Linked DNA regions of Homo sapiens: all the other regions are linked to region 3. The links come from fine-mapping of genetic effects on gene expression. A gene starts in region 3. Each other region holds a variant in brackets. All regions are shown on one strand. Distances are from middle to middle. Region 1 has its middle 13 kb from the start of LINC02606. Region 2 overlaps CTNNBIP1 (catenin beta interacting protein 1). Region 3 holds the start of CTNNBIP1 (catenin beta interacting protein 1).

Evidence for each region. PIP is the estimated chance that this variant, and not a neighbour inherited with it, causes the effect. A credible set is the group of variants that fine-mapping cannot tell apart.
Region 1: its variant is the best candidate, but not a certain one, in a credible set for the expression of CTNNBIP1 in iPS cells (HipSci, PIP 0.55).
Region 2: its variant is the best candidate, but not a certain one, in a credible set for the expression of CTNNBIP1 in monocytes after LPS (Fairfax 2014, PIP 0.53).

What each region holds. Positions count from the first base shown.
Region 1 is chr1:9,440,039-9,444,238 of GRCh38, forward strand. No RefSeq gene overlaps it. Among named protein-coding and RNA genes, the nearest start is that of LINC02606, 13 kb to the left of the region's middle. The variant A/G (reference allele first, on the strand shown) is at 1,979.
Region 2 is chr1:9,852,304-9,856,503 of GRCh38, forward strand. The region is part of intron 5 of CTNNBIP1 (catenin beta interacting protein 1); the gene reads right to left. LOC105376717 (a long non-coding RNA gene) reads left to right here. Exons shown (of 2, transcript XR_946952.3): 2 at 2,975-3,189. Among named protein-coding and RNA genes, the nearest start is that of CTNNBIP1-AS1, 6.1 kb to the left of the region's middle. The variant C/CA (reference allele first, on the strand shown) is at 2,065.
Region 3 is chr1:9,908,285-9,912,484 of GRCh38, forward strand. It overlaps CTNNBIP1 (catenin beta interacting protein 1), which reads right to left and starts at 1,985. Exons shown (of 6, transcript NM_020248.3): 1 at 1,811-1,985. RefSeq lists silencers at 1,533-1,592, 1,763-1,822, 1,833-2,432 and enhancers at 2,580-3,253, 3,254-3,926.

The DNA.
Region 1 (4,200 bases), 470 kb before region 3:
TCTGTCACCCAGGCTGGAGTGCAGTGGTGGGATGACAGCTCACTGCAGCCTTCAGCTCCCAGGCTCAGGTGATCCTCACACCTCAGCCTCCCAAGTTAGCTGTAACTACAGGTGCACACCACCACCCTCAGCTAATTTTTTTTGTATTTTTTGTAGAGACAGAGTTTTGCCATGTTGCCCAGGCTGGTCTCGAACTCCTGGGCTCAAGCAGTCTGCCCTCCTTCGCCTCCCAAAGCACCGGGCTCACAGGCATGAGCCACCACACCCAGCCTCATTTTATAATCTTTTAAAATTATTTTTTCCCTTGAATATTCTTTGGGAAGTTTTTGAAGATATGGCTCTGACTTAGCCTGTTTTGTGCTGCTCCAGCAGAATGCCTGGGACTAGGTAATTCATAATGAACAGAAATGTATTTCTCACAGTTCTGAAGGCTGAGAAGTCCAAGATCAAGGCGCCAGCATCTGGCGAGGGCCTTCTTACTGCATCATCCCATGGCAGAAGACGGACGGGCAGGAGTGGGTGGGAGAGAAAGACAGACCAAAGGGGGCTGAACTCGTTGCTTTATAAGGAACCCACTCCTGAAATAATGGCATTAATTCATCATCCATTAAACACCTCTGAAAGGTCCCACCTCCCAACATCTCCATATTAGGGATCAAGTTTCCAACACATGGATGTTGGGGGACACATTCAAACCGTAGCAGGCACTAAACCAAGCTCTTTTCTTCCCCCTCCCTGGCCTCATGACCTTTGCTGTCTACCCACTTGGCACAGCTGCACTGGCCGCCCTGCTGATGCCCATCCACACCAGAGACACACCCACCTCAGGATCTTGGCACATGCCCTTCCCTCCAGCAGGAACACTCTTGAGGCCATCCCCACAGCTCCCTCCCTTCCTTTCAGGCTTGACTGACATATGCCCCCTCCCCAGGCACTTGCATGCATGTTCTTCCACACGTGATTCCCCCAGCTTCTATCCCCATCTGAAATAGCACATTACTTGTTCCTTATCTGCCTCCCCCTCTGGAGTGCCAGCTCTGCCTGGCAGGGATTTTTGACTCTCGCCTACTGCCACAGCCTGGTGCCAGCACAGTGCCAGGCATGTCCACCCTGCAGCATTTACTGAGTGCCCACTGCACACCAGGCACTAGTCTTGGATGCTTTTGCAAATGTTTCTCCAGTGATGGAGGAACTAAACTTCTTTAAACTCAAAGGAATCGTTGTGTCTTCTGATTCCTCCGAGAGCTTTGAGGAGCTGGGCCGATGCAATGTCACTTTGCTGTCTCCCTCCACCCCGCTGCCCTTCTGACTTCATATATCAGCTTTCCCAACAGATGTGGGAAAGTGGGGTCATTCCCAGGAAAGGCAGAGCCTTCCATGACTTAGGAACCCAGGTGTTTGCTCCACTGGGGCCAATTGCTCCTGGCTTTTTCTGAGCTCCTAGGAGGAAATGCATCTGAAATGCCGTCACCCTCCCCTGATCATTAACAGAGCTCTTGAACTGGCGGAGTTGTCAGCGAGGCAACCACAGGCAGGCAGGCAGCCATCGCACCGGCTTTGCAGAGAGGGCTGGAGAGCTGATGCCCATGCCACGGGAAAGGGCCGGCGCCTGAGCCAAGAGCCTGACTGGAAAGTGTGTGTAAGGGACACCTGGAGGAAGCAGGGGCCTCCGGCGCCTCCTCCACCGACTGGAACCCGTGGTGCTCACCCGCTCGCCCTGGGGGCTCACTACCCTCCCTGCCCAGAGATACAGTGGGGCTGGCGGCTCACCAGGCTTTGTGATCCCAATGCTCACGAGTGTTCTCCCAACAAATTGGAACTTCTTTTCTTTCGTCTCATTTGAAAAAGTCTTTTGTGAGCTGGCAAGTGACCCCAAAGTAACCTCTCTATTCCTGTCGGAAGGGAAAATATTTCCAGATCAGAGAGACTACAGCACCAAGCCTTGGCCTATATGAATACTTGATTATGCCTCCTGAGC[A/G]CAGTCTCCTGAGCTTGTGCCAGTCAGTTTCAGAAATGAGCTCTGGCTGGGGGCGGGGGCTCACGCCTGTAATCCTAGCACTTTGGAAGGCCAAGACAGGAGGATCACTTGAGCTCAGGAGTTCGAGACCAGCCTGGGCAACATGGTGAGACTCTGTCTCTACAAAAAAAAAAAAATTTTTTTTTCAATTAGCCAATATGCTGGTGCACACCTGTAGTCCTAGCTACTTGGGACACTGAGGTGGGAGAATCACTTGAGGCGGGAGGATTGCTTGAGTCTGGGAGGTCAAGGCTGCAGTGAGCCGTGATCACACCACTGCACTCCAGCCTGGGCGACAGTGAGGCCCTGTCTCAAAAAAAAAAAAAAAAATCAAGAGGTTTATTATTTGCCCCATCAAGTATTTTAAGACCGAAGCTTCACATTCTCAAGGGTATGATGTCATGAAATTCCCACGTATGACCACATTTTGAAAAACAGTCATTGTGTTTTGGAAAGTGAGAGGGTTAGCCTATAATGTGGAAGATAAACTCCTAAAGTGGAAGTTTGAGATGCACAGGCAGAATGGGCCGCCGAGCTATAGCATTTGCTATGGTGAACTCATGTGACTGCCCCAGAATTATCTGGAAGTTCAATGTTCATCTTCTGAAAAGAACTGGGACCTCGCTGTGCCAGCTGTTGTTGTTCTAAGTGCAGTGTAAGCAGGTTTCTATTTAAAACCTTCACACCTGGCACTTGAGTAGTGCTTGTTTTCCAAAGGGCACCCTCTTTCCCTTGGATTTTTTGCACCTTCTCCTTTTCTGTTAGTCCGGTTTATCTCAGCCTGCTGGCATGAAGAGAAGGACAGTTATAAAAGCCATTTATAAAAGGAGCAGGGAGGTAGTGGTCTTTTGTCTTTGCTGCTGAAACGGCTTGGGTAGATATACAAGATGGCCTGAGAAACAATGCTGGGAGTGAGGAGCATGGACCGGCCAGGGAGACAGGAGGAAAGCAGGTTTCCCTGTCTTCATGGTACAAAGAAGGCAAAGGCAGGTACTCAAGGCCATGCGCCTTCCTAGACCACTTGGGTGAGGCCTTTGGACACTCCCCTGGGTCCCAGCATGCCTAATCAGAAACTCCAGATCTGAGCCAGGCGTGATGGTGGTGCCTGTAGTCCCAGCTACTCAGGAAGCTGAGGCAGGAGGATCACTTAAGCCCAGGAGTTTGAGGCCAGCTGGGCAACATAGCAAGATCCTATCAAATTCCAGATCTGTCACCATCAGTTGTCTCTTGGGGAGAGAGGGGCTCAAGAAAGGAAGGAGAATTTAGAAGTGGGGTAAAGAAAGGCTAGAAACGGGGAAATGGGGGAATGCACAGCAAAAGCAATTTAAGGAAGACACCGAGACTGAGACAGGGATGTTGGGAAACAAGCCCATAGTTTTTTTTATCTTCTACATCCAAACACATCTTCATCACCTTAATTATAGACTGAGAAATGACAAGGCTAAAATAGTCAAGGGCTGGGAATTTAAGATTGTAAAATGGGTTGGGCGTGGGGGCTTACGCCTGTAATCCCAGCACTTTGGGAGGCCAAGGCAGGTGGATCACCTGAGGTTGGGAGTTCGAGACCAGCCTGGCCAACATGGTGAAACCCCATCTCTACTAAAAATACAAAAATTAGCCAGGCATGGTGGCAGGCACCTGTAATCCCAGCTACTTGGGAGGCTGAGCCAGGAGAATCACTTGAACCCGGGAGGTAGAGGTTGCAGTGAGCCGAGATTGCGCCACTGCACCCCAGCCTGGGTGACACATTGAGACTCTGTCTCAAAAAAAAAAAAATTGTAAAACATCTCACTTCTGACCTTCAGAGGGTCCTCCCCTTCCTCTCCCTCCTTCTCCTCCCTCTCTGTTCTTCACCTCATCCCCCCACCTCCTTCTCCCCTTACCCCTCCTCTTTCCTTCACCATGGGCACAGCCCGTCTTGGAGGAGCAGAAATCGCTCTGAATGACACTGGCTGGGACAGAAGTGCCCTGGGGTCAGGCCTGAAGCAGTCGGGCCCGAACAAGGCAGCAGTTGTACACAGGAGCTTTTCAAGGAGGTTTTGCAGATACAAGGACGTTGGACAGAGAGGAACAGAGAAATTCCAGAGATTTTTCACGTGCAAGCGGATATTTCCTTTGAGAGTTTCTAGACTAAATAATACTCCTTGTGTCTGAGGGGACGGTGTATACTGCTGACCTGGCAA
Region 2 (4,200 bases), 56 kb before region 3:
ACCTTCCACTTGGCACTAGAGAACCAAGGTGCTGCTAAGGGAATGAGCCTTGTCACCTCCCACTGCCAGCTCGCCTTCATGGGGTTCTGGCTTTACCAGCACAACCTCCATTGCTCAGAAGGGAAATAAGCATCTAGAAAGGGACACGAGTTGTCCAGCTTCCTAGGATGGGGCACCCTCGCTTGGGAAGCCCTATGAATCCTTCCCGTCTTCTCAGGAACATTCTGTTTTCGCCTGAGCCCTAGGACCACGCAATATCACTGCAGGCAGAATTTTCCTAGCAACCACAGAATCCAAGATTACATCATCCCCTGCACGGCAGCTGAGTTGGTTACCTAACAGATGCCGACTTTTCCTGAGTGCTGCTTGCCCAGCTTGCTAATCAGAAGGGGGCTGGCAAGAGTCTGTGAAAGGGGAGTTGTCAGCAGAAGATGCCTTAGTGGCAGTGATGGTGGCAGCCCGCTCACTCCTCTCCCTGCCTGCCCTGTGGCCTTTCGCTCAGGGACCTTGGGCCTCTGTAGTGAGCTGCAGGCACAAAAATAGCCCTGGATGCCCCAGGAGGGAATGGTGCATCTACAGAGGGAATGGGCCATTGGCTTCTCAGAGGAGCCCAGACCTGGGGACCAGGACTCCCGACTCCACAGCCTGCCCAGTGTGTGTGCCTGTCCTGCGCTCTGAGGGTGGGAAGGAAGTAATCTTCTCCAGGTCACACAGGGACTCTGATGGCTATTTAACAAGACACTTGAAGCAAAGGATTTGCAAGAGTCCTACCCTTCCCACACTGCCAGCTGCCACCCCCTTCCCTGGTGGCATTTATAGAGCCTCCCACTGTGCTGCTGGAGCCCTGCAGAGAGGAAAAGGCCTGAGGAGCTGCGGCCTGTCTGTGCTCTCTTCTGTTCCTTAAGGATATTATCCAGGCTTTACCACAAGGATCTGCTTTCCTTTGGGATGAAAGAGAAGGCAGGCTCTCAGTTCTTCCAGAGCATTCTCTGACCTACCCTTGTCACTGGTTGGCCAGGTATTTGTCATTCAATGAGGTCTCACCATGAACCTGACAGGCCTCTGGCCGAGGACACTGGTTCCCCTTTTCCTCTTCTCTATGAAATTTGGGCCAGTTACCGAATAGGGAGGGTGAGCTGTTAGATTATGATCATGACTCGATCCCTCAGAGCTGCAGTTTTAGAGCCAGGAGGGACCTCAGAGGTTGAGTCCTACAGTCTTTCCTTTGAAGACCAGCATATGGCAGCTCCCTCAGGTAGTCTCGCTGTCCTGGATGCACAGCAAAGAGGGCAGCAGGCCAGCCCACTGCCTCCAGGCTGCCAGCTGGGTTTCCTACCCTGTTTTACAGATGAAGCTCTGTCTCCCCCCTTGGTATCTCTGTTGACACTGTCTGAACTTGAGCTCAGAGCTTCTATTTGTCCCTTCCCACCAGATGCAAGTGAGCATAGGAGGGGAGAGGTTGATCTGTGTCTCCTGTTCCACACTCAAAAACATTAAAAGATAAGGATAGCCAAAACCCGATGACAGTATCATGAGAAAAGAGAACTACAGATGAGTATCTCACATGAATATAGATGCAAACATACCCAACAAAATGCTAGCAAACTGAATACAACAACATATAAAAAGGATTCTATACCCTGACCAGGTGAGATTTATCCCAGGAATGCAAGGTTGGTTTAACATCTGAAAATCAATGACTGTAAAACACCATATCAATAGGATAAAGGACAAAAACCATACAGGAAAAGCAGCTGATGAAATCCAACATAATAAAACCACTCAACAAGGCCAGGTGCAGTGGCTCACGCCTGTAATCCCAGCACTTTGGGAGGCAGAGGCAGGTGGATCACTTGAGGTCAGGAGTTCGAGACCAGCCTGACCAACATGGTGAAACCCCATCTCTACTAAAAATACAAAATTAGCTGGGCATGGTGGCACATGCCTGTGTTACTTGTGAAGGCTGAGCCAGGAGAATCGCTTGAACCTGGGAGGTGGAGGTTGCAGTGAGCTGAGATCGCGCCATTGTACTCCAGCCTGGGCAACAAGAGTGAAACTCCATCT[C/CA]AAAAAAAAAAAAAAAAAACCCACTCAACAAACTAGAAGAGAACAACCTCTATCTGATAAACGGCATCTATGAAAATCCCACAGCTCTTATCATATTTGTTGTGAAAACTCTCCCTACCAAGATTATGAACAAGAAAAGGATGTCCGCTTTCACCATTCTTATTCAATATTGGCTTGAGGTCCATTCCAGGTTAGGTAAGTTAAGAAAAAGAAATAAAAGCCATCCAGATTGGAAAGGAAGAAGTAAAACTATCCCTATTTGTAGATGACATGATCTTATATGTAGAAAATCATAAGGAATCCACTAAAAAAAAATTTTTTTTTTTTGAGATAGGGTCTCACTCTGTCACCCAGGCCAGAGTGCAGTGGCATAATCTTCACTGACTGCAACCTCCGCCTCCCAGGCTCAAGCAATCCTACCACCTCAACCTCCCGAGTAGCTGGGACTATAGGTGTGTGCCACCACATCTGGCTAATTTTTGTATTTTTTGTAGAGATGGGGTTTTGCCATGTTGTCCAGGCTGGTCTCGAGCTCCTGAGCTCAAGTGATCTGCCCACCTTGGCCTCCCAAAGTGCTGGGATTACAGGCTTGAGCTACTGCACCTGGCCCACTAAAAAACTATTAGGACTAATAAACAAGTTAAAGGTACAGGATACAAGGTCAATATACAAAAATCAATTGTATTTTTATATACTAGCAATGAACAATCAAAGTAAAATTAAGAAAATGATTCCACTTATAATTGCATTAATCATAATAAAACACTTAGGAACAAATTTAACAAAGTGCAAATTTTTATGCTTTGAATAGTACACAACATTACTGAATAAAATTCAATACATGATCTCTATCAAAATCCCTTTCTTGGGGAGTTTGTAAAAATTGCCTTTTTTTTTTTTTTTTTTGTAGAAATTGACAAGGTGATCCTAACATTCATATGGGAAGGGAAGGGACCCAGAATATCCAACACCACCTTGAAAAAGAAGAAGTTGGACTCACACTTCCCAATTTCAAAACTTACTACAAAGGCAAGGTCAACGAGACTGGGTGGTACTGGCATAAGGACAGACATATAGATCAGTGGAACAAAAATGAGAGTTCAGAAATAAACCCTCCAACTTATGGCCAGTTGATTTTTGACAAGGGTGCCAAGACAATTCAGTGGGGAAGAAATGAACAAATGTGTGGTGGGACAACTGGATATTCACATGCACAGGATGAAATTGGACTCTTACCTTGCAGCATCTAAAAAAATTAACCTGAAATGGATAAATGACCTAAATACAAGAGATAAAGTTATAAAAATCTTGGAAGAAAATATAGAAACAAATTTTTATGACCTTGGATTAGGAAATGCTTTTTTTTTTTTTTTTTTCCTGGACAGGGTCTTGCTCTGTCACGCAGGCTAGAGTGCAGTGGTACAATCAGCACTCAAAGCAGCCTTGACCTTCTGGACTCAATTGATTCTCTCACCTCAGCCTCCTGAGGAGCTGGGACCACAGGCCCACACTGCTACACTCGGCTAATTAATTTTTTTTTGGCCAAGGTGGGCAGATCACTTGAAGTCAGGAGTTTGAGACCAGCCTGATCAACATGGTGAAACCCCATCTCTACTAAAAATATCAAAAAGTTAGCTGGGCGTGGTGGCACATGCCTGTAGTCCCAGCTACTCGGGAAGCTGAGGCACGAGAATTGTTTGAACCCAGGAGCTGGAGGTTGCAGTGAGCTGAGATCGCACCACTGCATTCTAGTCTGGGCGACAGAGTGAGACTCTGTCTCAAAAAAAAAATAAGAAATAAATAAATAAAAGAAAAATTGTTTTGACAGATGGGGTATCTTCCTATGTTGCCCAGGCTGGTCTTGAACTCCTGGGCTCAAGCCATCCTCTTGCCTCTGCCATGTAAAGTACTGGGATTACAGGAATGAGCCTCCACGCCTGGCAGGAAATGGTTTCTTAGTTATGATATCTAAAGCACAAGCAACAGAAAAAAATAAATAAATAAAGAGAACTTTATCAAGATTAAAAACTTTTCTGTTTCAAAAGACACCATCGAGAATGTGAAAAGACAACACACAGAATGAAAGAAAATGTTGACAAATCATATATCTGGTAAGGGACTATTACGCAAAATACG
Region 3 (4,200 bases):
CTGACCTCGTGATCTGCCCGCCTTGGCCTCCCAAAGTGCTGGGATTACAGGCATGAACCACTGAGTCCGCCCTGATCCACAGATTCTTTTTTTTTTTTTTTTTTTTTGAGACGGAGTCTCGCTCTGTCGCCCAGACTGGAGTGCAGTGGCGTGACCTCGGCTCACTGCAAGTTCCACCTCCCGGGTTCACGCCATTCTCCTGCCTCAGCCTCTCCGAGTAGCTGGGACTACAGGTGCCCACCACCACGCCCAGCTAATTTTTTGTATTTGTAGTAGATATGGGGTTTCACCGTGGTCTCGATCTCCTAACCTCGTGATCCGCCCGCCTCGGCCTCCCAAAGTGCTGGGACTACAAGCGTGAGCCACCGCGCCCGGCCACAGATTCTTATATGTAATCTGGCCCCTCTCCATCTTCATAGCACTTACCACTACTGAAATTATTTTGTCCACTTGTTTGTTTACTCACTTATTGTCTGACTTTCCTCCTCTTTAAAATGTCATCTCTGAGGAGGGCAGAAACCGTGTCTGTCTTCACCACTAAAGCCCCAGTACTTGGAACGGTGCCTGGCACATAGTAAATGCTCACTACTGAATGAATGAATCTCCATCCCATAGAGGTGATTTGTATTTACAAGGGAGGACCACGAACTCCCCCAGCAAACCGTGAATGACACATTGGCATTTAACAGCCCGCACCTTTATTTATGATCCAAAGTCCTACTTTAAATCTGAGGAAGCTGCTGGTATCTCTGGACATTTTAATGGCACAAGAGATCAGTTATCACTTGGGGACACACTCCAGGAACTGGAGCCCAGTGGTTGTAGCAGGGAGCTAAGAGCCAAGGCTCCTGCGAACAGAACTTCAAGACAAACCATGACTTGCCTCCAGGTCCCTTACCCACACACCCTGTACCTCAATTTACCCAGCAGTTGGCCAGACATGTTCCTCTCAGTTCTGTGAGTGACAGGAGACAAAATAATTCACAGCTGGAGCATACTGAGATCCTCAGACAGGAGGTGGTGCAAGCCACACGTCTCATTATTCATAAAACTCTTGATTTGCGGCCAACACGGCCCCCGCCGCCTTCCCAGGGGCTAACCTGACAACAGGCACTGCTCAGACAAGTTCAGCTCACAAGGCAGAGGGAGGGATGGAGGGCCTAGCAGAGGCTGGGTGTCCAGACCTGAGTGTCTCGGTTACCAGGTTCCAAAAAAAGGAAGGTGGTTGGGGTGGGGTGATGAAAAGGAGGTGAGAGGTGCAGTTTGGGGCTCCAGGTGGTTAATTTTGCAGGTTCGTGCATACACGCCCGCCATCCAGGTGAGATATGTGCCCCCACCAGGTACCTTCCAGGAAGGCTCACCGGGGAGGGGTGGAATCGGGAGACGACAGTTCAATCAAACTACAGAGGGAGGAAGGGCGGCCCAGCGTTTAGTTTGGGGAAATATGGAGAGTAAGAGTCTCAGAGTGGGCGCAGGTGAGGGAAGAGGCAGGGGCCCAGAGGTCGGGAGGGCGGACGGGCGATGACAGGCACCCGGACGCGGTGAGGTGAGCAACAAGGTGGGCGGCGCGGACACCTGTGGAGGCGACCCCCGGGCGAAGAGTCAGGGAGGCGGGAGGTGGTCTGCGGCGAGAGGCGGCCAGGCCCAGACCAGGGCGCCGCGCCGCTGGGGCAGTCAGGGGTCCGAGCGGGGTCGGGGGCGCTCTCCGCGGCCCCTCCCCGGCAGACAAAGGGCTGGCCGCTCCCCCAAGCCCCGGCGCGGCGCGGCGCGGGCCCGGGCGGTGCAGGCGCGGCCCGGCCTCGGCGCTTACCTGGGCCGCCCGACCCGGCCGGGCCGGCAGGGGCAGCGGGTCCGGCGCGCAGCGCGCGGCGGCCTGTTCCGGGGCGTGCTCAGCCCGAGCAGCCGCTGCGGCGGCGGCAGTAGCAGCAGCAGGAGCGGCCGCCTCAGCCTCCGCCTCCCGCTCCGAGAGTCACCGCGGTGGGGAGGGAGGGAGGCGCCAGGCCGCCGGGGGAGGGACCGGCGGAGGGGGCGGCATCTGGCTCCGCGCGGGCTGCTGAGGCGCGGCGGCGGCAACGCCCCGGAGGGAGGCGGGCGCGTGGGGCCGGGCGCCGGGGCGGGGCCTGCGGGCGGGGCGGGGCCCGGGGCCGCGAATTGGTTAACTCAGCCTGTGGGCGGGGCTGCGCGGTGCGGGGCGGGGCCTTGTGGCGCATGTGAACGCTCATTGGGCCCTCCTGGAAGGGGGCGAGACCAGCGACATAGGGACGGGGCCATGCGGTGGGCGGGTGGAACACGGCGCCGGTAGTGAGTGGCCGAGTCCGCGCTGAGAGCAAAGGGGAGGAGCGGGCCGGGGGTGAGCAGGGAAGGCGGGTTGGGCGCGAGGAGGAGGCGGTGGCCTGGAGGAGGAGCCGGGTAAGGCTGAAGCTGGCGCTGCGGTAAAGCCACTCTGCGTGTCCCTATCTGCTCCAGGAGCACAGTGTTCCGGAAAAATAATGGCCTCTCCCACACACCGGTCTGTGTTTAAAAACGGGAGCAACAAGACGGGGCAGAATCCTTGGTGAGGCCAGTTTACCCAGAACCCCGGAAAATTCTGAAATGGACGAGGTTGCAGAACATTTAGAGGCGTGGTCTTCCTGCGTCGTTGAGCTGGGAACGTTGCTACCTCTGAGCTTGGGGCCTAACCTGGGATTAACCTAGCCCAGAGAGCCCAGGGATGGGCCTCCGTAGGTCCATTAAACTCAGAAGGTCGTGTGTACTGGTAGTGAGTGGATTTTTCGGGGGAAGGGTGCCCATGATTAAAATGTTTCTACAGAAAGTCTGGCTGTATTTGGAGAGGGTACAGGGAGAAGCAGCCCATTTTAGGTAAAATGCAAATTGCTTTTAACATCCGCCTTCCTTTTAAAGGGACCTGTATCTTTAAGTGTGGTCTCATTTTCAGCAGTTTAAATTATCAGTTACACAGTGTGACACTAACCCCAGTTCAGAAGCCCTCCTACCCTACTCCTCCCACAGCCTTTCTTTTTACACCTTTTCTGTACCATCCTCTTCCACTCCACATTTCTTCCCCTTCCCTATGCAAAAAGAATACGAAGTCCTTTTTTGTTTGTTCGTTTATAATATAATATCCACATTACTCTTTACTCATTTGGGGGGTTTTTTTGTTTTTGAGAGGGAGTCTCGCTCTGTCGCCCAGGCTCAGGTGCAGTGGCGCGATCTTGGCTCACCGCAACCTCCGCTTCCCGGGTTCAAGCGATTCTCCTGCCTCAGCCTCCTGAGTAGATGGGATTACCGGCATGCGCCCCGGCTAATTTTTGTATTTTTAGTAGAGACGGGTTTTCTCTATGTTGGCCAGGCTGGTCTCCAACTTCTGACCCCAAGTGGTCTGCCCGCCTCGGCCTCCCAAAATGCTAGGATTACAGGCCTGAGACACCGCACCCGGCCTGCTCACACTTTTTCATACTTAATAGGTCCCCGGCCGGGCGCAGTGGCTCATGCCTGTAATCTCAGCACTTTGGGAGGCCAAGGCAGACAGATCACCTGAGGTCGGGAGTTGGAGACCAGCCTGACCAACATGAAGAAACCCCGTCTCTACTAAAAATACAAAAATTAGCCGGGCGTGGTGGCGCATGCCTGTAATCCCAGCTACTCAGGAGACTGAGGCAGGAAAATCGCTTGAACCCGGGAGGCGAGGGTGCAGTGAGCCGAGATTGCGCCATTGCACTCCAGCCTGGGCAACAAGAGCGAAACTCTGTCTGAAAAAAAAAAAAAAAAAAAAATTGGTCCCCAAGTGGGTTTCTCCTACAGTGTCCCCACCTTCAGTAACTGGCACCACTCTCTACCCAGTTGCTTACACCAGACACTTAAATTGTACCGTTGACACCACTCTTTCCTTTATTCTTCATTTCCAGTCCATGTTGTTTCCAATTCTAAATGGTGTCCTTAATCTCTCCACCTCCTACCATCTCTACCCCTCTTTCCCAGTTTAACCTGCCACCAGCTATCACCTTGACTCCTGCAATAACCCTTCAAGCAGTCTCTCCTTTAGGCTCTCCTTACGCCCCCATTCACTGCCCACACAGCAACTAAAGGAAACTTCTTAAAATCTTGTCAGACCTGCGCTATTCAACGACTTCTCTTCATTTTCACGAGGAAGTTCAAAGTCCTTAGTGTGGCAACAAGGCCTTACAGGATCTGGCTACAGCC